3 separate regions of the Homo sapiens genome follow, and all the other regions are linked to region 3. The links come from fine-mapping of genetic effects on gene expression. A gene starts in region 3. Each other region holds a variant in brackets. All regions are shown on one strand. Distances are from middle to middle. Region 1 has its middle 41 kb from the start of EDAR. Region 2 overlaps SH3RF3 (SH3 domain containing ring finger 3). Region 3 holds the start of SH3RF3 (SH3 domain containing ring finger 3).

Region 1 (8,180 bases), 98 kb before region 3:
TTCCCTCTGAAGCAAGGGGACCAAAGGCTGGCTATGCAGTCATGAGCTCCCAGCTCTAAGGTGAGGAAGCACCGTTAGTGTAGGATACACTGGATATGTCATGTATTCAAGTGGGGAAAGCAGCAGCCCAGACTGTGCCCCTCACATCCTGATTGCTCGGCACCCTCTAGGTGGGGAAAAAGCTCAAAATGATCTTTTAGAAACAGCTGCTCCTCTCAGTCTTATTTCCACACTTGCCAATTCAGAGCTGCCAAATACTTCTTAAAAATCATTAGAAGTGGCCGGGTGCAGTGGCTCACGCCTGTAATCCCAGCACTTTGGGAGGCCAAGGTGGTGGATCACGAGGTCACCATTCTGGCTAATGTGGTGAAACCCCGTCTCTACTAAAAATACAAAAAATTAGCCAGGCATGGTGGTGGGCGTCTCAAAAAATAAAAAAGAACCTCTGAAGACATTGGCCGGGTGTGGTGGCTCACACCTGTAATTGCAGCACTCTGGGAGGCCAAAGTGGGCAGATCACTTGAGGTCAGGATTTTAAAACCAGCTTGGTGCGTGGTGAAATCCCATCTCTACTAGAAATACAAAAATTAGTTGAGCGTGGTGGTTCGCACCTGTAATAGCAGCTACTTGGGAGGCTGAGGCAGGAGAATCACTAGAATCCTGGAGGCGGAGGTTGCAGTGAGCCAAGATTTGCACCACTGCACTCCAGCCTGGGCAACAGAGTGAGGCTCTGTCTCAAAAAAAAAAAAAAAAAAAAAACAAGGACCTCTGAAGACTTCTTGAAGGAGGGTGGGTCTCCTGGGGGACTAGCCTCATCTTGGAGGCATTGCAGAGGTCTCCTGGGCCCAGCCAGACCCCAGACATCTTGTTCCTTTGTGGAGTCTTCAAGGGAAGAGCTTTTGAAGCCATAAGGAAAGACTGGATTTTGAAGACAAAAGTAACTTTCCTCTTTTGAAGGCAGCATGGAGCCAAGGAAGCCTGTGGAGCCTGACATGAAGGCACAGGCTCTGAGCCTGGCATGTCCATCCACCCTCTGTTTATGATACCCTGGGCAGGGCCTAAGCCCTCCTGGGCCTCAGCTCCCCTCCTGTAAGTGGTGACAGACCTCACAGGGTTATTGGGCACTGACGTGGACAAAGTATCTGGAAGGAAGCAGTGCTGCGTAAGCGTCGTTATGACTATGGGGACTCAGCAGGACCTAGGCCAGGAGCAAGACCTAGAGTTGATGAGGGCCTGGGCTCCAGGAGTGGGCGGGGTGGGTGGGCGGCAGCTCTGCAGCCTGGCATGCTGGCCTCCCCGCCATGCGTCTTCCTTCTCCCTGCAGGCTCTGAGTCCCTGCCAGTCCCCTACTTCTGTCTCTCCCAGAGCTGCTACTCACAGATCCATCCTCAGAGGGAGCACTGGGCTCTGCCAGTTAATGCATGTGTCCTGCTGAGGCAGGGAAGAGCTCAAGGCTTTCCTGGTACTGTTTAAAAACATACTGGCAGGGTGAGGTGGCTCACGCCTGTAATTCCAGCACACTGGGGGGCCAAGACAGGCAGACATCTTGAGCCCAGGAGTTTGAGACCAACCTGGGCAACATGGTGAAACCCTGTCTCTACAAAAAATGCAAAAAATTACCTGGGCCAGGTGACATACACCTGTAGTCTCCACTACTCAGGAGGCTGAGGTGGGTGGATCACCTGAACCCAGGACGTTGAGGCTGCAGTGAGCCATGATCATGCCACTGCACTCCACTCTGGGTGACAGAGTGAGACCCTGTCTCAAAAGAAATAAATAAAATAAAAACATATTGTTCGATTTTAAATGCTAAACCATAATTGACACCTGAGCCTCAGGGCTAATGGAAAGTACAAAGTGCATGCTGGGCCACGGCCCTTACCTCCACTGAAGGAAGAGCCTTACACCAAGAAGGTAGGCCCTGCTGCTGCACCCTGGCTTCCCCGTTGCTGGGAGGCCTGTCTCCACACGCCACCCTCAGGCCCTCCTGCACAGTGGCTCATGGTGGCTGACACACTGTATTTGAGGGTGACAGTCCTTGCATCAACATCTGGACAGTGCTGAATGCTGTTTCAATCTCCTCTGCTGTGCCCTAAGCATCCGATCCCAACAGCCCTCACTTAGAGGAGTGCTCTGACCTATTCCACAGGCCCTCCGAGGGTGGCAGACATGCACCCAAATGAGTAGCTTAAGTCAGTAGGCCCGGTTCTTGCCCTTCCCCCACACATATCTTGCCCCTCCTACACCTTGACCCTGGACCTAAAGCAGCAGAACAGAGCTTAGAGGTCATCGGGTCTAAGCCCCACTCCTGTCTTCCAGAGCAGCCTCACACTCTCAGGATCTGTGTGGCTGTCAGGGACTGTGAGGGCCAACTGAGAATGCATGTGTGAATCTGGCTGTCACGACTTTAGTTGTGATTGTTTATTTATTTATTTGTTTGTTTATTTATTTATTTATTTAGTAGAGACAGGATTTTGCCATATTGCCCAGGCTGGTCTCAAACTCCTGGGCTCAAGCAATCTTCCCACCTCAGCCTCCTAAAGTGCTGGGATTACAGGCGTGAGGCACTGTGCCCGGCCTATGTGATTGTTTATTTCTTTAGCCCTCACCTCATTCTAAACTACAAAAATAAATAAAATAAATAAATAAATAAATAAGGTTTAAGGCAAGATTATTGTTATTACTGTTAATAGGACACCTGGGCCCTTTCCTCCTTCATGTCAACACTGAGTCTATGGAGTCCCTCCCCATCCCAGCCCCCATTCACCCCCATGGCCGCAGCTGCTGGGTTCTGCCTTGGCCACTCCTCCAAGTTCCTTCCATAAAGCTAGTAAAGCATCCAGGAGAGGGATGATGAGGGACCATGTGTAAATGGGAGAAACTTCATTAGGGTAAGGAAGGCATGGGAATCTGGAGGTGGGAAACCATGATGTGGCTGACACTGATGCCTGAAGTTATTGAAGGGTGCCTCAGCCCTCCTGGGAAGCAGCAGCTCAGTGTGTGTCTGTCCGTTTCCAAGGGAAAACCTGGTCCTCTCAATGAGGGGAAAGAGGAGATTCTGCAGCATGTGTGTCCCTGCCGGGCAAACTTTACAGCATCAGGCTCCAAAAGTAGAGCAGGGTGACCCTGGGGAGCCCTCCCTCCTTCCTCGGCCTGGGATGCCTGCCTGCTGCCTGTGCTGTCTCCTCTGTTCCCCTCTCCTTTCCTGGCTGGAACAGCTGCAGGACAGGGCCCCCCGGCAGCCATCATCCAGCCTTTCATCTCTATCCTTGTCTCCAGCCTTGCCAGCAACTTAAGCCTAATCATTGCACAATGAAAGGCTGTTTCTCTCAAATGGATGCAGACATCCTTAGCCTTCAGGGGCAGCCTCTTATTTTGCTCACAGATAAGGCTGTTTATTTTAAAGAAATACTATACTAATAACCCTCTTGACTTGACAAGGATCCTGGTTGCTATCTCTGTATTGATGGATTGATTGATTCATTCATTCAGTAAGCATTTACTGAGTGCCAGTTCGAGTGTGTGGGTGAGTCTTAGATTTACTGCCTCCTTGACATCATTCTTTAGAAAGAATTCTTTGACTCTAACTTTTGTTTGCTACCTCAGAATGTTCTGCCTATGCAAAGAACAGTTTCAAATCAACCTGGATTCGAGAGCTCATGAAACTGATCCTCAGCCTTCATTTTCAGCCTTTTCCTCAATCCTCCCCTGCACAGCCAGCTGGCTCAGCACTCTCCCCAGCAGGCCATGCGCTCAAGTGCTTTACCTTCAACATTTTCCCACTGAAGACCCAGCCTTCTCCTCTAGCCAAATTATGGTATGCTACGTAAAATTCCTTAGAATTCTATTTTAAGTGAATTTCACGTAAGTAAAGCCCATTGTTAATGTCATTGGAAAGGTTATTTTTAAATGAAGAGGTGTGCCATACCCTGCCAAATGTGATAATGTGTATAGTAGCACCTAGCACAGTGCCTGGTGCATTCTGGATAGACAGTAAATATGACCTGAATGAATGAAAGAATGGGCCTCACTGTCTGATGGGATGAGGCTCCCTGAGAAGGAGTGGGGAGTGGTGGCCTCTTTGAGGATGACCAGCAGGCTGTTAAGCAGAAGGCTCCTTCTAGAATTGTACTTTCCTGAGTACCTAGGACCAGCTTGGGGCCCCTCAGGCATCTGAATTTTTGGACCACTTTGGTTTATATAACCCACTTCTTATCCAGGTTCTGTCTCTTGACAGTTTTTGTTGTTGTTGTTGTTGTTTGTTTGTTTTCTAGGTCTCACTATGTTGCCCAGGCTGGTCTTGAACTCCTGGGCTCAAGCAGTCCTTCTGCCTCGGCCTCCAGAGTAGCTGGGACCACAGGTGCACCACACCCGACTTTGGCAGTTTTTTAACATCTCCCAAGTCTTTATTTTCTTGGTAAAATGGTTTAATAATTGGTATATATACTCATAACTAGTACACAGACTAACACAGTGTGCATGTATACCACCATCAGTGTCATCTGCACCTTTTGTCTCACTGACTCATGGTAAGACACGGAGCGCTCCACGAGGGGACGCCATGTGTGGAGATGCTGGAGTCTAAGGGTATTGTGATTGGGCAATGGTAAGAACTCCGGGTCCCTAAGTCCATTCCTGCTGCTACAACAAAACACCTTAGAGAGTAATTTATAAATAGCCATTTCCTTTTCACCGTGCTGGAGGCTGGAAGTCCACCATCAAGGTGTCAGCAGTGAGGGGGGCCTGTTCCTCACAGATGGGGGCTTCTTGATGGGTGCTGGCTGACTCAGCACAGATGGGGGCTCTGATGTGGCAGGGGTGGGGTAGAGACGGGAACGCTCTGCAGAAGGAGCGGAAGGGAGGAAACAGCTTCCTCCAGCCTTCTTATAAGGTTATCAGCCCCGTTCCCCTTACGACGGAATCACTTCCCTGGAGGCCCCCTCTTACTACTGTTGCACCGGGGACTGGGCTTCAATCAGTAGCAGCAGGGGATGCGCGCTCAGACCCAGCAGTCGGCTCTGCCCGCCTCGCCGGGCTGCACCGAGTCCGCGGGTCTCTAGCGCACGGCCTGGCCCCACG[T/A]GCGGCGAGGAGGGCGCAGTGAAGTTCTGCTGTGTGCACCCCCTGCAGCTCGGCCGGGAAGCGCCCGCTGGAGGAACGGAGAGCGCCGCTTCAGCGTCGGCCACGTGGGCCGGGCTCTGCCGGTGGCAACCTGGACGCGCTGCGGGCGCCGGCGAGACCTGCGCCAACGCCTACCTCCGGGCCACAGGCGGGATAAAGCTGCCCCACTTTGCCCCCAGCGAAGAGAACCCTCCTTCCTCTAAGTATTTTCTTCAGCAACTAAGCTTTTCTGTTTGCTCAATTTCTTGTCCCGTGAGCGCTACCACCCACCCCCCGCCACCTTCTTCCCCTCCCCCCACATCCGTTCACTCTCTTTGACCTTTTGCCAAAACTCTGAACGCTCGCTGCCCTCCCTCCCATTTCCTCACCGCGTTTCAGGAGCTGTAAGTTCTTGGTGTTCAAACCCCCTACGGTTACGTAAACAGAACTCTGCAGTTATCTTCTTTCCCTTTCTTCGGAGCTTTGTTTTCAAGTTCATTAGAGACTTCCTGTGGGTGTAATTACCGCTCTGCAGTTTTGAGCGCTGCCCACCTTCCCCCTGTTTTGTTAAAAATGTCATAGATCTTTGGAGATTTCTTTCACTTCTAAAGTTATTACCTGTCTGCCTGCACATCAATCTTGTTGATTTTATTTCAGGGCATTTTCCGGAGTGAACTTCTGCATAGCGATTTTTTTTGTCCCTCCCCACCCCCTCTTTGTTTTGCAGGAAGGTGAAATAAGACAGAAGAAAAGGGTTAGAACTTTAGAACTCCAGGACCCAACCTCAGTCCTTTCAAGCACCGTCTGCAAACAGATGCTGTGCTAGACTCAGCACCCTGTCTGGTGAAACTGCTCCTTGGGGTGACATCGGTCGAATGTGTGAGAGGCTTCAGCGGATGCCCTGACTTTTACACCATGGAAGGGCTTTCTCCTCACTCTCCATTCTTCATCCCACTCCATCCATGCGCTTTCTCCCCTCCCCATGGGGTGGGGTGGGGGAGTCTTTCCTCCAGCTGAGAGCAGAGGCCTTGGCCAACTAGATGTGTCTTCTGGGATTTCACAGTCGGGCCACCTCTCACCTCTTGCACAGGCTGGTGGGTTAAATGAAACTCCTGTAGCAACTCACAGAGCATTTGATTTAAAGCTAAGATTTATAGGAACTCACAAGTCAGAATGGAACAATAATTTCCCTCCGGTTGCACTGCCACTACTGAGGAGCAATCGCCTAATTCCACACAGAGTTTGCTGATTCTGTGGGCCTAACAGAGAACTCCAGATGGGCAACTAGGAGCTAAGAAGTGCATCCTATGTCACCAGGAGCTAATTTTCCCTGGATTTTCAAAGAGGCCTCATATTTGACCCATGTCATGGCAGGGTGAAATATAAGTCCTTCCTGAACCCTTGGAAGCTGAACGTTGTGGACATCAGCCATGGGAAATACATTTCCTTTAAACTGATCACCAGGCCTTAGTATGATCCATGCCTTGAGTGGACAGAGACCTTTCATGTTTGGTCATTACTCAGCCAGACACTTCTCTGAGAGGTGATGACTTCCCTAGGAAGGAATAACAAAGCCCCTTTCAGGCTGTTGATGGGCCCTGTCCACTTTAATTTTGCATTCAGCCTCGCTCATTTCTGTGAGCTGAGATTTTGATTATTCTGATTTCCACGACTCCTTTTGTGAAACAGAGACACTGAGGTGAATGCACGGGCCCAGTCCCCTCCTTTTTGAGTGTGCCCTCGGAAGCAGAGGCAGGTGGTGTTGCCGAAACACCCAGGTTCTGTCTAGGTCCTGCCGCTCCCTGCACAGAAAGCCAATCACAGAGATGACAAGTATTGCCAAGGAAGAAGGCTTTAATCAGGTGCTGTAGCTGAGAAGATGGGAGCCCAGTCTCAAATCCATCTCCCCATCCACCTAAAACTAGGGGTTTATACACCAGGGAAGAAAGATAACAGTGTGTAAGAAAACAGGAACTACGGAGGGGCAAGGAAGCAGTCACAATGTAGGGTATCTCATTGTCTGGATGTGTTGATCTGGTGAGTTTCCCTTCTTTGATGATACTTTTTTTTTGAGAGGCGGTGGCTCATGCCTGTAATCCCAGCACTTTGGGAGGCTGAGGCGGGTGGATCATTTGAGGTCAGGAGTTCGAGACCAGCCTGGCCAACATGGTGAAACCCCGTCTCTACTAAAAATACAAAAAAAATGAGCCAGGTGTGGTGGCGGGCACCTGTAGTCCCAGCAATTCGGGAGGCTGAGGCACGAGAATTGCTTGAACCCAGGAGGCAGAGGCTGCAGTGAGCCGAGATTGCACCACTGCACTTCAGCCTGGCGACAGAGGGAGACCCTGACTCCAAAAAAAAAAAAAAAGGTAAGGTTCAGCCAGGTGTGTTGGCTGACGCCTGTAATCCCAGCACTTTGGGAGGCCAGGTGGGTGGATCACGAGGATCACAAGGTCAAGAGATGGAGAACATCCTGGCAAACATGGTGAAACCCCATCTCTACTAAAAATACAAAAAATTAGCCGGGTGTGGTGGCAGGCACCTATAGTCCCAGCTACTCGGGAGGCTGAGGCAGGAGAATATCACTTGAACCCGGGAGGTGGAGGTTGGAGTGAGCCAAGAGTGTGCCACTGCACTCCAGCCTGGAGACACAGTGAGACTCCATCTCAAAAAAAAAAAAAAAAAAAAAAAAAAGGAAGGTTCAAACTTTAGAACCAGAAGGGTCAATTTCTACGTTTATCCAAAAAACTATTTATGGGACTATTGGGTCAATTTCAGTGGGAGGCCCCAGGGCCATGCCCCAGAGGAAGAGACTGGCGTTTAGGGAATGAAAGCACAGGGAAGTGAGGAACGTGGAGTATTGCAGAGCCAAGCTGAGGGGCTATGGCAAGAGAGGCGAAGAAGAAAGACAAAGCAGCAAGCCAGCAGGCAGAGGGAGGCACAGTGAGGCAAAAGCTGGTTCTGGAGCCACCATGTAAGCAAATTCAGCTCCTTTTACACCTGGCTCAGGCCACTTCATGGAGCTAAGGTGGGGCCGGGTGCCCCATCTTCATCATCCTGTACTCCTAGATTCATTGCAAATA
Region 2 (8,180 bases), 96 kb after region 3:
AGTAAGCACATGAAAAGATGCTTCATGTCATTTGTTACTAGAGGAATGCAAATCAGAACCACAGTGAGAAACCATTCCCACCTGTTAGAAGGGGCATTTTCCAAAAAGTAGAAGATAATAAGGGTTAGGATGTGGAGAAATTGTTATGCTAGTGGGCATATAAAATGGTACAGCTGCTGTGCAAAACAGTGTGAAAGGAGTTTGAACATGCAATTACTGTATAATTTGAACACAGAATTAACTATATAATCCAGCAGTTCTATTCCTAGGCTTATACCCAAATGAATTGTGAACCGGGACTGAAACAGATATGTGTACACCAATGTTCATAATTGCATTATTCATAATAGCCAAATGTCCACTGACAGATGACAGGGTAAACAAAATGTGGTATGTATACACAGTTGAGGAATATTCAGCCTTAGAAAGAAATGAAGTTATGACACGTGCTGCATGGATGAACTTTGAAGTCATTATGCTGAGTGAAATAAGTGAGGTGCATACAAGTCATGCACAGAGGAACCATGGACCTGGAATAAAAAGTCAGTCTTCCACATCCTAGTCAGCCTCTCTTAATTTTTTTCTTTTCAATAACAGCCATTCTAACTGGGTGGAGGTGATATTTTATTGTGGTTTTAATGTGCATCTTCCTGGCTGGGCCAGGTGACTCACGGCTGTAATCCCAGCATTTTGGGAGGCTGAGACAGGCAGATCACTTGAGCTCAGGCGTTTGAGACCAGCCTGGCCAATATGGCAAAACCCTGTCTCTACTAAAAATACAAAAATTAGCCAAGTGTGGTGGTGCACGCCTGTAATCCCAGCTACTCGGGAGGCTGAGGCAGAGAATTGCTTGAACCTGGGAGGCAGAGGCTGCGGTAAGCCGCGATCGCGCCAGTGCACTCCAGCCTGGGTGACAGGGTGAGACTCCATCTCAAAAAAAAAAAAAAAAAAAAAGTGTGCATCTTCCTGATGGTTAGTAATGTTGAGCATTTTTTCATAAACCTGTTGGCCATTTCTGTGTCTTTTGAGAAATGTCTCTTCCTTTCCTTCCCCAATTTTTAATGGGATTAAGGACGTGGAGAAAAGGGAACTCACATATACTATTGGTGGGAACATAAATAAGGCAGCCACTATGGAAACCAGTAGGAAAGTTTCTCAGAAAACGAAAACTAGAACTATCATATGATCCAACAATCCCACTGCTGGGTATTTATCCAAAGGAAAAGAAATCAGTGTATCAAAGGGATACCTGCACCCCTGCATTTATTGCAGCACTAGTCACAATAGCAAAGATGTGAATCAGCCCAAGTGTCCATCAACTGATGAATGGATTAAAAAAAAAAAACACAGGGGATACTATTCAGCCTTTCAAAAGAATGAAATCATGTCATTTGCAGCAACATGGATGAAACTGCAGGTGGTTATGGTAAATGAAACAAGCCAGGCACAGAAAGGCAAATATTGGACGATCTCACTCATATGTGGAAGCTAAAAAAGGTGCTCGCATGAAGACAGAGTAGAGTGCCAGATGCCAGTGTCTGGAAAGGATGTGTTGGTGGTAGGGAGGTAAAGAAAGGTTGGTTAAGGGTATAAACATACAGTCAGAAGGAATGAATTCTCGTGTTTGATAGTACAGCAGGGTGATTAGTTAACAACAATTTATTGTATATTTTACAATAGCTAAAAGAGATTTGAATATGTCCCAACACAAAGAAATGATAAAGATTTGAGGTGATGGATATGCTAGTTACCCTGATTTGATCATTACACATTGTATGTATCAAAATATTATATGTACCCCATAAATATGTACAATTATTATGTATCAGTAAAAGTTCCTCCAAAAAAATAAAAAGAGTCCATCCTTCAGCAGAGGGAGTGCATTGTTGGAGGGGCAAGGGTGAGAGGCCAGGAGAGCAGGCCCTGGGCTTAGCCTCCAGCATCCACAGCACGCGTGTGCCCTGGACTGGGCCTAGGAAGGGTGGTGCCCTGGTGGCCTATGCTGGCCCTGTGGAGCCTGGCCAGGCCTTCCCTGTACCTCCTCCCTAAAACCCTGGGATGGCGTGGGCTCCTTTCTTCTACCACTGACATCCAGTGTTTCTGTTAAATTAGGTGGTCTGCCTAAGGACTTTTTGGTTTGCTAAAAGACAAAACAAAACACAGGAAATAAAGCACATTTTCCAGTTCTCAGCCAGCAGCGCAGGTCCTCTGTGACCACATGGCATCCCCAAGGTGTCCGCGTGTATCCCACATGGGGACTCAGCCAGCTGTGAGAGGGATGGACCTGCCCCTGCCTGGGGCTACGGTCCCCATACTCTCCCATCAACAGGGTCTGTACTCACTGCACCCTTCAGGGTGAAGAGGGCACTGTCCGCCCCTGTGGCCATCAGATGGTGTGATCCCACCTCTTGGCAGAGGCTGGCACCACGCCCTGATGCTTCTCCATCCCAGACAGGGGGAAGCAGGTGGTTGGAGAGAGGTGGGAGGATGAGGTTGCCACCTTCTCCTGAAACCAGCATGGGTGCTGCTGCCACAGATCATGAATGCTTTGTCCCCCTTTGCTGCCGTCCCATGCAGTCAAGTGCCCTGATAACCAGGAGTTGGCTGTTACCAGATCCAGAGCCCTCAGAGGCTGCGTGAGCACCAGCCACGTGAGCAGCCTACCTGGTGTGTTTCCCAGAGCCGACAGAGCCAAGAGGGGCGTTCTGAAGCCCGAAGAAGCAGGAGTGGCCACTAGGAGCTGCCGTGTGCTCGCTGTGATGGAGTTGCCGAAGTGCTTTGATTCCTCGGTTATTTCAGGCATTGTCCCCCTTTGGGAGTGGGCATGGCCTGCCCATGTCAGTCCTAGGTCAGTGGCTGGAAATGAGCAGAATGGAAGCGTAGGAAGGGCTTGAGGGGTGTGGGCACATGCTTCAGCTGCGGGCTCCATTCAAGCATCGGTGGAGGGCAGTAGCACCATGCAGACAACTGGAGCTCCTTAGTGCTCCCTGGGTAGCCCTGCACCTCTCCATGGCTCTCCCCTGAATTCTGCCCCCCACGTGATGCTGCCCCAACGTGGAGATCCGGGATGTGTCGTTGTCTTTCCTTGCAGAGCCGTGGAGGACAGCCTCTGAGCCATCCCTGCTAGTCTCTGCTCCTGGCACATGAAAGTGTTCAATACATGTTTGTGCAGAAAGTGAAATTAAAATCTGTCCACTTGGTAGCTGGATGTGGTGGCACATGTCTGTTGTCCCAGCTACTCCGGAGGCTGAGGTAGGAGGATCAGATCACTTGAGCCTGGGGGGTGTGGGTTGCAGTGAGCCATGATTGTGCCACTGCACTCCAGCCTAGGTGACAGAGTGAGACTCCGTCTCAAAAACAAATTCAATCAATAAAATCTGTCCACATGGCTCATTAATGGATAGAATGTTAAGAGCTGGAATAGCTTCAGGGTTTACCTAGCCTCGCCCCTTGTTTTACACAAAAAGAAACTGAGGCCTGGTCTCCCACTTCTGCCCCTGCTTGGCAGGCCTAGAGAGTGTGTGTGCATGTGCAAATGGAGGGGGTGTGGGCATTGGGAGTTTAAACTTGGCTTGAATAGCTAATCAGATCTATCAAAATTAGGTTTTTACCAAGCATAGTAAAATAAGACTTGTTTGGTATTATTAGTGATGCTAAAACTATATGTCACATATTGGACAAATAAGCACATTTTCAGATACGCATGTGGGATTTTGATTGCATGCTGGGTTTAGTCCAAGATTAAATCTGCATTTTGTTCTGATGTAAAAGGGACTTGAAGCAGTTTTTGAGGTCATGTGCATAGCAGCAGTGATGGAAATGTCCTGTGTCTGCTCTGTTCAGTACAGTAGCGACCAGCCACAGGTGACTACTGAGCTCATGAATGTGGCCGGCGTGGCTCAGGAAGTGGCTTTTAAAATTTCATTTTGCCAGGCGCAGTGGCTCACACCTGTAATCCCGGCACTTTGGAAGGCCAAGGCGGGCAGATCACTTGAGGTCAGGAGTTCAAGACCAACCTAGCTAACATGGTGAAACCCCGTCTCTACTAAAATACAAAAATTAGCCCAGCATGGTGGTGGGCACCTGTAATCCCAGCTACTTGGGAGGCTGAGGCATTAGAATCGCTTGAAACCTGGAGAGGGAGGTTGCAGTGGGCTGAGATCATGCCACTGCAGTCCAGCCTGGGTGACAGAGCAAGACTCTGTCTCAAAAAAATTTTTTTTCATTTAATTCTAGTCAATTAAAACTGAAATTTAAATAATTACCTGTGGCTAGTGGCTACTCTAATGGACAGCTAGAGAACTGCAGCATAACCTTATCTTTTTAAAAATCTTATTTTAAAAAGAATTTTGTGGGTTTGAAGGAAAGATTGTCTGGAAGAAGGAAGTGACTGAGACATAGCTTTTTGACACCTGGCCTGGAGCCTTTTCGTTTAGACCAACCAACTAAGCTGGATGACACCAGCACAGTCCCTTAAATTCCCTGGCCTCAGTTTCCTCTTGTGTAAAATGAGGTTCTATGGCTTCTGCTAGTTCTGAGATTCTATCTTGCCCCATTCTTGGCAACTGGGATATGAAGAGCTCTATTTTAATAACGATAATAATAAAGAAGGCTTATTAAACACTGGGGATCCGGCTGAATAGTCCTCAAACCATTGTACTCAGCTGGGTGGAGAGACCTGCAAGTAACCAAGGGAAGTTTCAAAATGTGGGTTTC[C/T]GGGCTCCGCTTGGACCCATTTCACAGGGACCCGAAATCTGCACGTTAACAGGTTTCACAACGATTCTCACACAAACAACTCCCTTTAAAGATACAGGCCAGGCCGACTCCCCACTGGGGACTGGGTGGGCTGACCCACCTGGCCCACTCACACTCACCATGTGGAGTTTTCTCCTGAGAGTTAGGCCAGGGAATGATTTTTAATGTGGGATGCTCCACGTTCCTCTCTGGGACTTCCCATTTGCAATGTCTTAAGTCACTTTCATGTTTGAATTTAGAAAATCAAAAGATGACCGTCTTGTTTCCTGTAAATATCAGGAACAGAGAGGAGAGCAGGTGGTGTGTTTGTCCTAGACTTAAATTTTAAGATTTATTTTTATAAGTTAGTTTCAAGTTTGCTTTCTTTCGTTCTTAAAATTGAGATAGGGTCTCGCTCTGTTGCCCGGGCTGCACTGCAGAAGTGCGATCCCGGCTCACTGTAGCCTTGACCTCCTGGGATGAAGTGATCCTCCCCTCTCAGCCTCCCGAGTAGCTGGGACTATAGTCGCTTTCCACCATGCCAGCTAAAAGTTTGCTTTCAAAGAGTCCCTATTCTAATCTGTTGTTGGAGCTCTCCACAATGAATCACCAAAATACCATTTTAATATTAGAGTAGTATTTTGTCAGGAAAAAATAGGCCTGACCCTGAACAACTTATCTGCATAGCTGTAATATTGTCATTTTTGACTCAGGCTAAATCACTTGTTAATTTTAGGAGGAAATGTCAGAGGAGGTTGTCCCCAAATAGCAGTTATTATCTGTTTCCCAGGTTTATGAACCCAGCTCACAGCTCTGCTTGTCAACATCTGCAGAAGGAACTTAGAGAAAGACTGGCTCCTTTTACATTTTTTTTGTTACAATAGTTAATGTAAGAGTAGTTATGTAAACAGATCAATAAGCTCATTTTGAACATGACCCTGCCAACTGTTTCAAAGCTAAAGTCACATTGACTCAGGAAGGTCAGCTGTTTCATCTACAGTGTCTGTGGCCCATGGAGGAACTGGAGCCATGTGAGGTCTAATGACACACGTGGCCCATGTGCAGTCCTCATCGTTAAGTAAGTACCCTGCTGACCTCTTAAGACATAAACCAAAAATAAACTGTAGCAACCACTTCTTTTTAAGTCCCTTTAAAGTTTAGATTTTTACTGTTCTTAGGGTGACTTTGTGGCTCATCACTCTTAGCTTTTTCTCATTGCTTCTTGAATCGCTCCCCTTTCCTGAGTGTTTCTTGGTCTGCCATCTTGACTTCTCCCGGGGCCATGCATCTGCTCCCTTTGTGGCTCCGTTTGCTCCTAAGTCTTTGCAGGATCTCCACGCAGAAGGCGTGGTGCTGGATCTTTAGGGGACATTCAGATATAGACATGCTTTGTGCCATTAAGGAACTTGTGGCTTAGTAAGAAGAACAGCTGGTTACAGAAATGAACCAGGACCCCTACAGCTGCAGGAGAGAAACTAACTGGAATCAGTCAAAACACAGAGAGAAGCAAAGCCGTGTGGTGGCCCAGATAACCAAGGGTCCTGAGGTAGATGCATCCACCATGGCCGGGTTCATGGCTCAGATGATGCCATCAGGACTTGGTCTCTTTCTAGCTCTGGGTCCCACCAAGCTTTTCCATGGTGGCCTAGCAGCTCCACTGTCCTCTTCATAGGTGCAAGAGGGCTTTAGGGGTCTTTGTCATGTTTCTGGGGTCTTTGCTGGAACATCTGCAGAACTCACGAGATTCACTCCGGCTGAGTGAACTGATGGCAGTGGCAGTGGTTGGCTCAGACTTAGGGTGTGTGTTTTCTCCTGAAATTGAGAGGATCCCACCCAGGCCTCAGGGGCTGAAAGTTGGGGGAAGGAGCTAAGAGAAAATTGGTGCCTGTAGCTAGAAGAAGCTCTGTGAATGTCAGGCACACAAAGCTACACGTCCATGCCAGAAAGTCACAATACTAAGGGACTTCTCAAGTCCTGGTTCTCAGGTCCTTAGGGGTCCTGGTTCATTTCTGTAACCAGCTGTTCTTCTTACTAAGCCACAAGTTCTCACAGTCAAGTAAAAACCAAATGCGACTGGAGTTATGAGGATGGTGACATTGAAGCTATCAGGGACTGCTTCATGTTGGGTGCTTTGTGTGGGCTCCCGGGTCTGCCTGGGCCCTGCCCTTCATCCCTGTCTGCTTCTCTGGGAGATCCCTGGCTCTTGGGATTGTCTGTGTGTGGGAGATTCCCCTGGATCTGGCCTGGCCATGCCCACTGGCTTCATGGGGTACACGGCAGCTCCCCTGCTTCTGTGCTGTGCTCCCTGCAGGTCACAGGATCCACTTCTCTGCAAGTGCCAGAATCTTGTGCAGTCCTTTCGGGTCCAACGCAAGTTCTTTTTCTGGGTAGGTCACCCCCCAGCCAACTGGAGTCAACACTTCCTTTCCCGAATTCCCGCTCACTCTGGCAATCTCCCTTGGCCCTTCGGTCGCTCCGCCTTTCATCGGTTTGTCTGCAACTGCAGTTCCCTGTAGGCTTCATGATGGTGACCGTCATTCCTGATGTTTCCCAAACAAACGTGCATTGGTGCTTTTCTGGCTCAAGGGGCATGGGATTTACATTTGCTGTGGGTAGGAAAGAGTGGGGAATAGTTCAGTGTTTTCCTTTATTTGTAGGAAAGTGATGCCCAGACACAGGTACGAGTGTCTGGTTTGGTACTTTTACTCTCTCTTGACACATACAGGCAATCTCTAATGGCTGTGTTTTCATGCTGCAAATGATGTACTTGCAACGTTTGGCAAACATGGTGCTACTTGCTTATAATACTGTCAGAAATTCAATCGGCAGCCCTCCTAGTCCCCAGGAATGTGCTTGGTGGCAGGTGTTAGCAGTGCGTGTCTATCCCCCAAAGGCTTTTATTGTCTCATTAATGAGCAGGTGCAATAAATGTGTTGTAGACAGCATCTCTGTTAGTCTGAAGATGTTTGGGATGTGTGTTCTATTTCCACATGTCACCCTGTAGAGGAAAACCAACTGTTTTCCTTGATACCCACAATGCACCCAGAACACTTCTGATACCAGATGTGTGTGGGGTTTTGCCACACCAAGCAATTCTCCAGTTGTTTGCAGATGCCAACTGGGTATTCAGTTCAGTTCTGACCCCTTCCATGTGGAGCTAGTATGGACCCTGCAGGTTAAGGGCTCAATCTCATCAGGCTGCCTTCACTTCAGAGGCCAGTTGCAAGAGGTGTCTTCAGGTTACCTGGAACTTCTGTGTGGCGTGGCTGCAAATCTGGTTTATTATATTAGTGGAGGGCATGATAAAAGATACAGGCAAGCAGCCAGATGGAGAGGTACATAGGGCGAGGTCTGGAAGGGTCCTGAGCACAGGGGCTTCCGTCTCTGTGGAGTTAGATGTACCCTCTCCAGGTGGGTGGATGCATCCACCAGCCAGAATCTCCCCA
Region 3 (8,180 bases):
ATAATGTGCATCAATTTGGGTTCCCAGTTGAAAACAACAAAAATGGACTCTGGTTGATTTAACGAAAAAGAAACTAAGGAAATGAAATTGGAAAACCCATAAGATCAACAGCAAGGCCAGGAAAGCAGTGGAGGCTACAGTCCAGGCTCACCAGGCAGTCAAGTCTGGGGTTGGCCTGTTGCCAAGGCGTGCCCCCACTCTGAGATGCTACAGGCTGCAGGCACTGCTGCTGCCAGCCACCTGCCCCATAGCTGCTGAACTCTCGGTGCTTCCTCTGCCCACGTCCCTCCACCTCCCAGAGTGTGGTGGGGGAGGGGCAGCTTTTGACTAGCTGAGCCTGTCACATTCCCACACCTTAGCAGAGTTGGTGGGGGGGTTAGAATTATCTGACTATCACCATGTGGAGCGTCTTCCAAATCTAAAAAGAAGTTCAAATTTTGGGCCGCCAAAAACCTGACATACAGCCGTCCAGTCCTGTTTCCTCTGAGCTTTTTCTCCTTTGGACAGACGCCCTGTGTTCCTTCAACTGAAACTCATGGATGAGGCCTCCGGATCCCTTACCACATCGTCATTAATTTTTGGTACCCAGAATTGGAAGTAATCTCACAAGTCTGAGGTACAATGGGATTATTTTTTTCCAAACCCTGACCACCCCCCACCTTAACTTTCATGAAGGCATCCGAAGATTTCGTTACTTCTCTAGTCAGCCATAGTACATAGATGACTCATGTTGGCTCATACAATGCTTGTGGTCAACTGAAATCCCCAGATCTTTTTAGGAATGGCTGTAAAGCCAGGTCTTCTCAATTATTTACTTATATAATTGGCTTATTGAACATGTGCAAATTTAACCGAGTAACATAAGACTGTATTTGTAATACTTCAACTATTTAGTTCACACCCTCAAATTCCCTCACGCTGTAGCACAGTGTACTTGGCTACTTCAACCAGAAATTGTAAACTGGCGGTCTGTAGGCCAATTTGACCACACATTTATTTTGTTTGGCTAATATGGTGGTTTTTGAGAACTAAATCGGTTGCCAACTGTTGAACATCAGGAGATGTCATGTAAAAAGCAGCACTTCCAACTTCTCTTGAAAGGTATGAAGGTCTAGCAACATTTGGTCGTCATTCCCCCAGGGCTGGAGCTGGGCAGCAGCTACTTCCTCTGAAGGGTGCAGACAAAGCTCACTGCAGTCCCCACCAGGCCCTGTTGCCTGGGGTTCACCCTGCTTCGTTAATTTCATGCCCTGCCCAGTCACTGTGGACATCTGGGTGCATAGTCTGTGTGTCCTGTGGGTGCTGGTTATGGCAGGGGCAAAAGGGGTAAAGTGGAGAGAGAAGAAAGCTGGGAAAGGTGGGCTTAAGTGGCTCTCTCTTGCTCTTGTCTGTCTTGGGTCGTGCAAGATAAAGATGTACTGAGGGCAGAGATGTGGCGGTGAGCTTCTGGCACGGGCATCTGTGGTTCTGACTGCCCAGCACGGCAATTCTTCTGGAAATTCTCACTTCTCCTGTGTGACTACAGAGAGTGCTGCCAGGTTCCAGATGATCCTGCTCCTGTGGCCAAGGCACACGGGTCCAAAGAGTGACCACTGGTCCATACTAGTGATAGAGTTTTAGAACTTCCAGGAGTGGCTGATGTTGTTGGAAGAAAGGCTCATGAAGATTTGACCGCATTTTCTGTCATGTGGGTTGGGAAGCAGAGGCAGCTGGTGCAAGAAAGTGAAGGGTTGAGTCATCAACTAGAGACAGGGACAGCAACACACACTGCAGGCTCTATCTGTGCTAATCTGGCTCAGCTCTTAGCCTGGGATCCTATGAGATGCCTCGTATTATTAGTGTATATTCTGCTCCCTTTAAAATTTACCTAGAGTTGGTTTCTGTTGCTTGCAACCAAAAGCACCAGGGCATGTCGTCACAGGCCGTCCTTGCTCTCTGTGAGCCCTTCCAGTGCCTGATGGGTCCCCTCTTTATGCTCCCCCTTGTCTACCATCTGCTCTTGGATCAAGCATCCTGGGTGCTCTAAAAAATTCCCCTTGTTCCTGAGCAAGGGTAAGAGTGAAAGGTGGCTCATGTGAACATGTTTCCATGCACTGCGAGGTGTGTGCCCTTCCTTCGGCCCTCAAGGGAAGCCAGGCAGCTCTGGGATGCTTTCCATCTCACCCTGTTGTTGGCGCTGATGTAAATCATACAGATGGAAATCCACATTGCTGAGAGACATCCAGGTTAAGAAAGCCACCTGCTGCTATCAGAAGCAAAGTTTCCAGGGACTAGCATCCTGATATAAGCACAGGATATGTGTAATTGAGATACTAAGATCTGCCTTCAAATCACCAGTAGGTGATGAGAGAGAGAGAGAGAGAGAGGGAGAGAGAGAAAGAGAGACGTATCCTTTCATTAATTCTACAAATATTTATTGAACACCTACTATATGCTAGTCACTGCCCTAGGCACTAAGGATATTACAGTAGAAAAGATCTGTAGCTTACAGAGAGCTTACATTCTAATGGCATGTAAACTTTATGTGTTAGTTCTGTGGATACAAAAATGAAAATTCAGCCCCAATGGCTTTACAAGTATGAATATCACTTTCCTCATTTGTAAAATGAGTTTAAAATAATTATCACAGGTTGGGCACCGTGGCTGGCGCCTGTACTCCCAGCACTTTGTGAAGATGAGGTTGGAGGATCTCTTGAGCCCAGGAGTTTGAGACTAGCCTGGGCAACATAAGGAGACCCTGTCGCTACAAAAAATTTAAATTAAAAATTTAGCCAGGCGTGGTGGCGCACCTGTAGTTTCAACTATTCAGGAGGCTGAGGTGAAAGGATGGCTTGAGCCCAAGAGTTTGAGGCTGCAGTGAGCCGTGATAGCACCCCGCGCTCTAGCCTGCCTGACAGAACGAGATCCTGTCTAAAGCTATGGAAGTAAATATAAATAAATAAAATAATTATCTGGCAGAGCTGTTTAGAGGATTAAATAATATATAGCACGCTCTTGGCCTTTTAGCCTCAACAAATACTACTTTTTTCCTTAATAATAACAGAAAGATCATACAACTTCACAAACCACAAGGACAGGCTGGCCGATAGGCAGGCCCCCCACGACTCTTCTGATGTTAGCCCTGACTGAACTCGCTGTGCAGCGTCCAACCAATCCTGGTTTGTGCTGGGCCCTGGACTGGAACCCAGCCCTTCCCGACGGGAACGCAAAGCGGCCACGAGGGGGCAGCGCACGGCAGGGAATCTTCGCCGCCGACCCCAGCCCACCGCCAAACTTCCCTGCTGCTCTCGGTCCTCCTGTACGTACTTCCGTTGCTCTGACGCTCCCAGAAGCCGGGGCGTCGGGAAGGAGAGCGCGAATTCACCCTCCTCTGCGCCTCCGTAGGAAAAAATTGGAGCGGGGGTTCACGAGACTGCGCCGCGGCGGGCGCTAGAGCCCCTCGCACAGCGTCGCCAAGGGTGCGGCGTGGAGCCGGGCGCCTGGCGCCAGGGTGCTGGTCGGCGGGCAGCGGCGCCAGCCTCCGACCCGCGACTCCGGCGAGCCAAGGCTGCGCCGGGAGGAGTCGGCGCGGGCCCCGGGGTGCCCCCTTCAACTGGAGCGCCTTCCCCTCCTGCCTTGCGGCGCATCCCCACACCTACACCGGAACGAAGCTCCGGGGCTGTCACTTCTGCGCGCTTCTCGGAAAGGAGTCTGAACTGGGAGCGCTCCGGGGGGTCGTCGGGGAGGATGCCCGGGCGTCGGCTGTGTCCCCAAGCTGCTCGCCGGCGCTGGCGAGGAAGGCAGTCGGGATAACGCCGCCCAAACTTTCCTTCGCAGCAGCGTTGGCAGGAAACGTCCCTCTCTGAGGCTCACGAAAAGCCGAAAAAGACTCGGACGCTTGGAGGAGGCAGGGCCAAGCCTGCGCAGGAGAGGTTCCCCGGAGCCCTGGAGATGTCCTAGGGGACCAGGCTAATCGCCGGCTTGCGCCCAAGCGAAGGGAAGTCCTGCAGGCACGGCGCCTCCTTCCCTGAGCCCCGCAGTGACCGTGACCTCCGCGCGCACCCCCGCGCACGTGCTCGCGGCCGAGGAAGAGGAACGGTCCTGCTGAATCCTCTGGAGGACAGCGACTAGCGAGCAGGCCAGGGGCGCATGGAGGTGCCGCGGGGGCGGTGCGGCTCGCCAGCTGCGCGGAGGAGCGTGCACGCCGCGCCCCGGCCTCCCCGGGGACCTGGCCGGCCGCTGCCCGCACTTCCTGCCGCTGGTCTCCCAGGCGCGAGCCGCCGCTTGCAGCACAGAACCCGTTGAGCTTCGTGCCCGGCAGCACCCCCGGTCCCCCGCGCGGGGCGGACTTGCGGCGGGACAGGTGTAGCCCGCAGCCGCAGGCGCTGCGCTCAGGACTGGGCGGGCTCGGCTGGCCGGTCCCCGCCACGCAGGCCGGTCCCCGCCACGCAGGCCGGTCGGTGAGCCACTTCGCACCGCCACAGCCCTAGCATCGGGCCACCAGCCGGGGTGAAGAAAGTCACGGCGGAGCCCGGCTCCCCAGTCCTGATGCTGGCTGCCGGTGGCGGGCTCCACGCCGGCCCCGGGACCTAGGCAGCCGCGCGAGACCGCTGCGGGCGCCTCCCCCATGCTGCTCGGAGCGTCCTGGCTGTGCGCATCCAAGGCGGCCGCCGCTGCTGCGCAGAGCGAGGGCGACGAGGACAGGCCAGGCGAGCGACGGCGGCGTCGGGCGGCGGCCACCGCCGCGGGGGCGGGCGAGGACATGGACGAGTCGTCGCTGCTGGACCTGCTGGAGTGCTCCGTGTGTCTGGAGCGCCTGGACACCACGGCCAAGGTGCTGCCATGCCAACACACTTTCTGCCGCCGCTGCCTGGAGAGCATCGTGTGCTCGCGCCACGAGCTGCGCTGCCCCGAGTGCCGCATCCTGGTGGGCTGCGGCGTGGACGAACTGCCCGCCAACATCTTGCTGGTGCGACTGCTGGACGGCATCCGTCAGCGGCCCCGCGCGGGCACCAGCCCCGGCGGCAGCCCGCCCGCGCGTCCCATCCCAGGCCAGAGTGCGGCCCCCACGCTCGCGGGCGGCGGGGGCGGCGCGGCAGGCAGCACCCCGGGTTCCCCGGTTTTCCTCTCCGCGGCCGCGGGCAGCACCGCCGGCAGTCTGCGGGAGCTGGCGACCAGCAGGACCGCGCCGGCGGCAAAGGTGAGTATCTGTCTCGGCGGAAGTGGCCACGGCACGTGGGAGTGTGTGGGTGGGTGCTTGGGCGTGGGGGGCAGTGATGAGGTGCGGAGGAGACCACGGGTGGTCCTGCGTTGGCCCACTCCGCTGTTGCTCTTCCTCCAACTTCGCTTGCTTGGTGGCGGCATCCGGCCCCTGGGCAGCTCGCCGCTTGTTCACGTGTGTCCCATCCTCCTGTGGAGTGGGCACGCCTTCCTGTCCCGTCGCTCACCCCCGATTCCTTGGCCGGACTTGTTACCCTGCCTCTTAAACTTAGCATCGCCCTTGCGTCTCCCTAGAAACGGGGACCTTCTTCCTCTGGGTCCCCAGACACTCCCTCTGCACACCCTGGGCCTGCCTAGAGAAAAGTTAGCCCTTAACGTTTCTGACAGGGCTCTGATGGCTGCTCTGGGAAGCCCGCGGGCCTCCTGCCTGCGGTGTGGCTAAGGAGGGGAGGGCAGAAGGCAGAGTGGGACTGGGGTTTGGAGGAATGCTTCTAGTAGTCTGGAAGGAGTTAATCTGGAGGCCCCAGGAGCCTTTTGACCCAGCCCTTTTGGACTTGGCAGTGTCTAACCAGAAGCCAAGGTCTTCTCCTGGGCTCCCAGGCAGGGTTGCATTCCCACGGGGGTCATTTATATTTATTATTATTATTTTTGGTACAGCCGCATTTTAGGGCCTTCGCTGCTTCTGTTTTAGACGAAAGATCTTCTCTGGATGGCTTCAATGATTTGGTTTTAAAAGCTTCTTACAGCTTCTTATTACACACCCTTGCCACCTTGTGAACAGTTACCAGGAGAGAGGGCATGGGATGCTGGTTTAAATGAGAAAAGAAAGGACCCGGGTTTTGTTAATTTCTTTAAATGGAGAAAAGCACTTAAATGTTAAAAAAAATACATTATCTATTGGAATAATCATTTGCTTTAGAAACACAACTTTATTCCTCTACTTTTGACCATTTAAGGAGTTGGTGATGCCTAGTCCTTCCACTATGTGTAATCCTGAAATGCTGGGAACATTCTAGCACCTGGATTAGGCAGTACTGCAAATCTCTAAGGTTAAGGTTAGGAACTTAAACCCTTGGATGTTGAGCTTGAGTTAAATGCCATACTTTGCTGCAATGGGTTTTTTTTTCTATGGATCAGGAAGAATGGGGACAGTCAAGGATAGTCACTGGGGGTCACTTGGGGGGCACTGCTGAAGGGGAATTTTTTTCTTTGGTTTTAATTGTGATTAAATCCAGCTAAATGCTTGCGTTAGAAATTTTCAAACTTTTCCTTCCTGGCCTTGCTGTTTTTGATGTAAGGTATTTATAATTAAATATCTTTATTTGCAGAATAAGTGGGTTACCTTCTTCTGTTCTGATAAATTATGTGATATTCGGAGCCCCGCTTCTAGTAAAACGCTGGGACATTCTGATGACCATCTGTTTACAGATGTCCTCTCAGTTTATCTTGGGGGACTTTGTGTTTGACCAGGAGGTTAGGAGGTAACCTCTGACATGTGACAGGCTGAAGCTTTGATGCCACTCCGGGAATTCTGTGGCATTTGTAGTACCTTTTAGAACTTGTCAAAGGGGTTGAAGCTTGGAACTTTTTAGTAGTGACATTTAGTATTAGCAGGAAATTGATGTTTTACTCACCATATGTTGAGACCCTTGGTTGACTTTCTTTATGGGTGCATAGTCATGTTCATGACTTTTTGTGTTTTTGGGATGTTTCTGGATGTTGTTTAATAGACGAGCACTTATTTAACTAATAAGCAGGAGTCCCGCATGGTGTATTCACACTACACTAGCACTATACTACCATGCTGGGATAATAGCATTAGGTCCAGCACATGCTTCGGGAGTGGGAAGGATTGTAATAGCATATCAGGCATTGAGCAACCCTATACAGTTGGTTGACAAAGATTTCGGCTGAAAATTACTTTTGGTACTTTACTGTCCATTGGAATTGCTTGACTCCTGCCAGGAAAGTTGAATGCTGGATGTTGTTGCATGTTGTTTAATAGAGGGGCACTTATTTAACTAATATGCCATGATAGCAGGTAACCATAAATATTACAGTCCCATCATTTTCCAATTAGAAGCTCCTTACATCTTCTTTTGGGCCAATTAGGGTATGTATACTTTTTAGGTATATAGGTAAGTATTGGCATAGCTTGTTTACTTTATTAATTTTGTTACGGTTCAATATTTTGACAGCTTTATTTAAAAAAAAGTTTTAATTTCTGTTTGGTTTTACTGGCAGGACACAAAACAGTGTTTTCCTGAACTCTTTACCTGTTGTTTTTCATCGGTTTTGGTGATCACCAGAGTACTTGGAGTCCCCTGACGTGGTTAGCAGAACCTCTCAGCTCTGCTCTCACCTGAGCCATTTGAGATAAAGCGCTTTTGTGGAGTCAGTTAACGATGCTGCCCCTGGAAATAATATACCCAGTGACGAGTACCCATAGCCTAAGATCAGGAGTTGGTCTTTTTATTTGCCTGTTGGCAAATACTATATGTGTGTTGCTTCTTAAAGTGTGTTCATATGTGTTACTTCTTGAAGTGACCTTTAAACAGTCCTGTTTTAATGGTACTGTCTAACCCTTGCAGTTGCTAATGTATGCTAAATTTCTCAGGCTAACTTGTTTGTTTATTGTTTTGTTTTCACTATTTTGCAAGAAAATCCCTTTAACATCCCAAGCTAGCATCAATCAAATTGTTTCAGTGCAGTGGGAGTCTTGCTAAAAGAGTTTTGTGGTTCCACATTGAGTAATTCAAAACATGCTTTTTAATGTAAGTGATTTAATAAGGACTTGAATATCAGACAATTCCAATTTTGTTTTGAAAATTTTTTAAATCCTTGACTTATATTTGAGCCTATACAGAACATCTTCTGCAGTTCATGTAGACTCGGCTAGGCACTATTATAGGTAAACAAGACTGGCTTGGGCTTTCTGGATGGAGCTGACAGTAGAGGTAGTGAGTGGTTGCAAGCTGTCT

What was found. PIP is the estimated chance that this variant, and not a neighbour inherited with it, causes the effect.
Region 1: its variant is fine-mapped to the expression of SH3RF3 in whole blood (INTERVAL, PIP above 0.99).
Region 2: its variant is fine-mapped to the expression of SH3RF3 in whole blood (TOPMed, PIP above 0.99).

What each region holds. Positions count from the first base shown.
Region 1 is chr2:109,026,506-109,034,685 of GRCh38, forward strand. It overlaps a transcript of RANBP2 not described here. Among named protein-coding and RNA genes, the nearest start is that of EDAR, 41 kb to the left of the region's middle. The variant T/A (reference allele first, on the strand shown) is at 5,080.
Region 2 is chr2:109,220,649-109,228,828 of GRCh38, forward strand. The region is part of intron 1 of SH3RF3 (SH3 domain containing ring finger 3); the gene reads left to right. It also overlaps a transcript of RANBP2 not described here. Among named protein-coding and RNA genes, the nearest start is that of MIR4265, 83 kb to the left of the region's middle. The variant C/T (reference allele first, on the strand shown) is at 4,717.
Region 3 is chr2:109,124,935-109,133,114 of GRCh38, forward strand. It overlaps SH3RF3 (SH3 domain containing ring finger 3), which reads left to right and starts at 4,271. Exons shown (of 10, transcript NM_001099289.3): 1 at 4,271-5,179. The coding sequence starts at 4,607. It overlaps SH3RF3-AS1 (SH3RF3 antisense RNA 1), which reads right to left and starts at 5,185. Exons shown (of 1, transcript NR_029193.1): 1 at 2,393-5,185. It also overlaps a transcript of RANBP2 not described here. RefSeq lists silencers at 3,487-3,546, 3,927-3,996, 4,007-4,056, 4,087-4,286.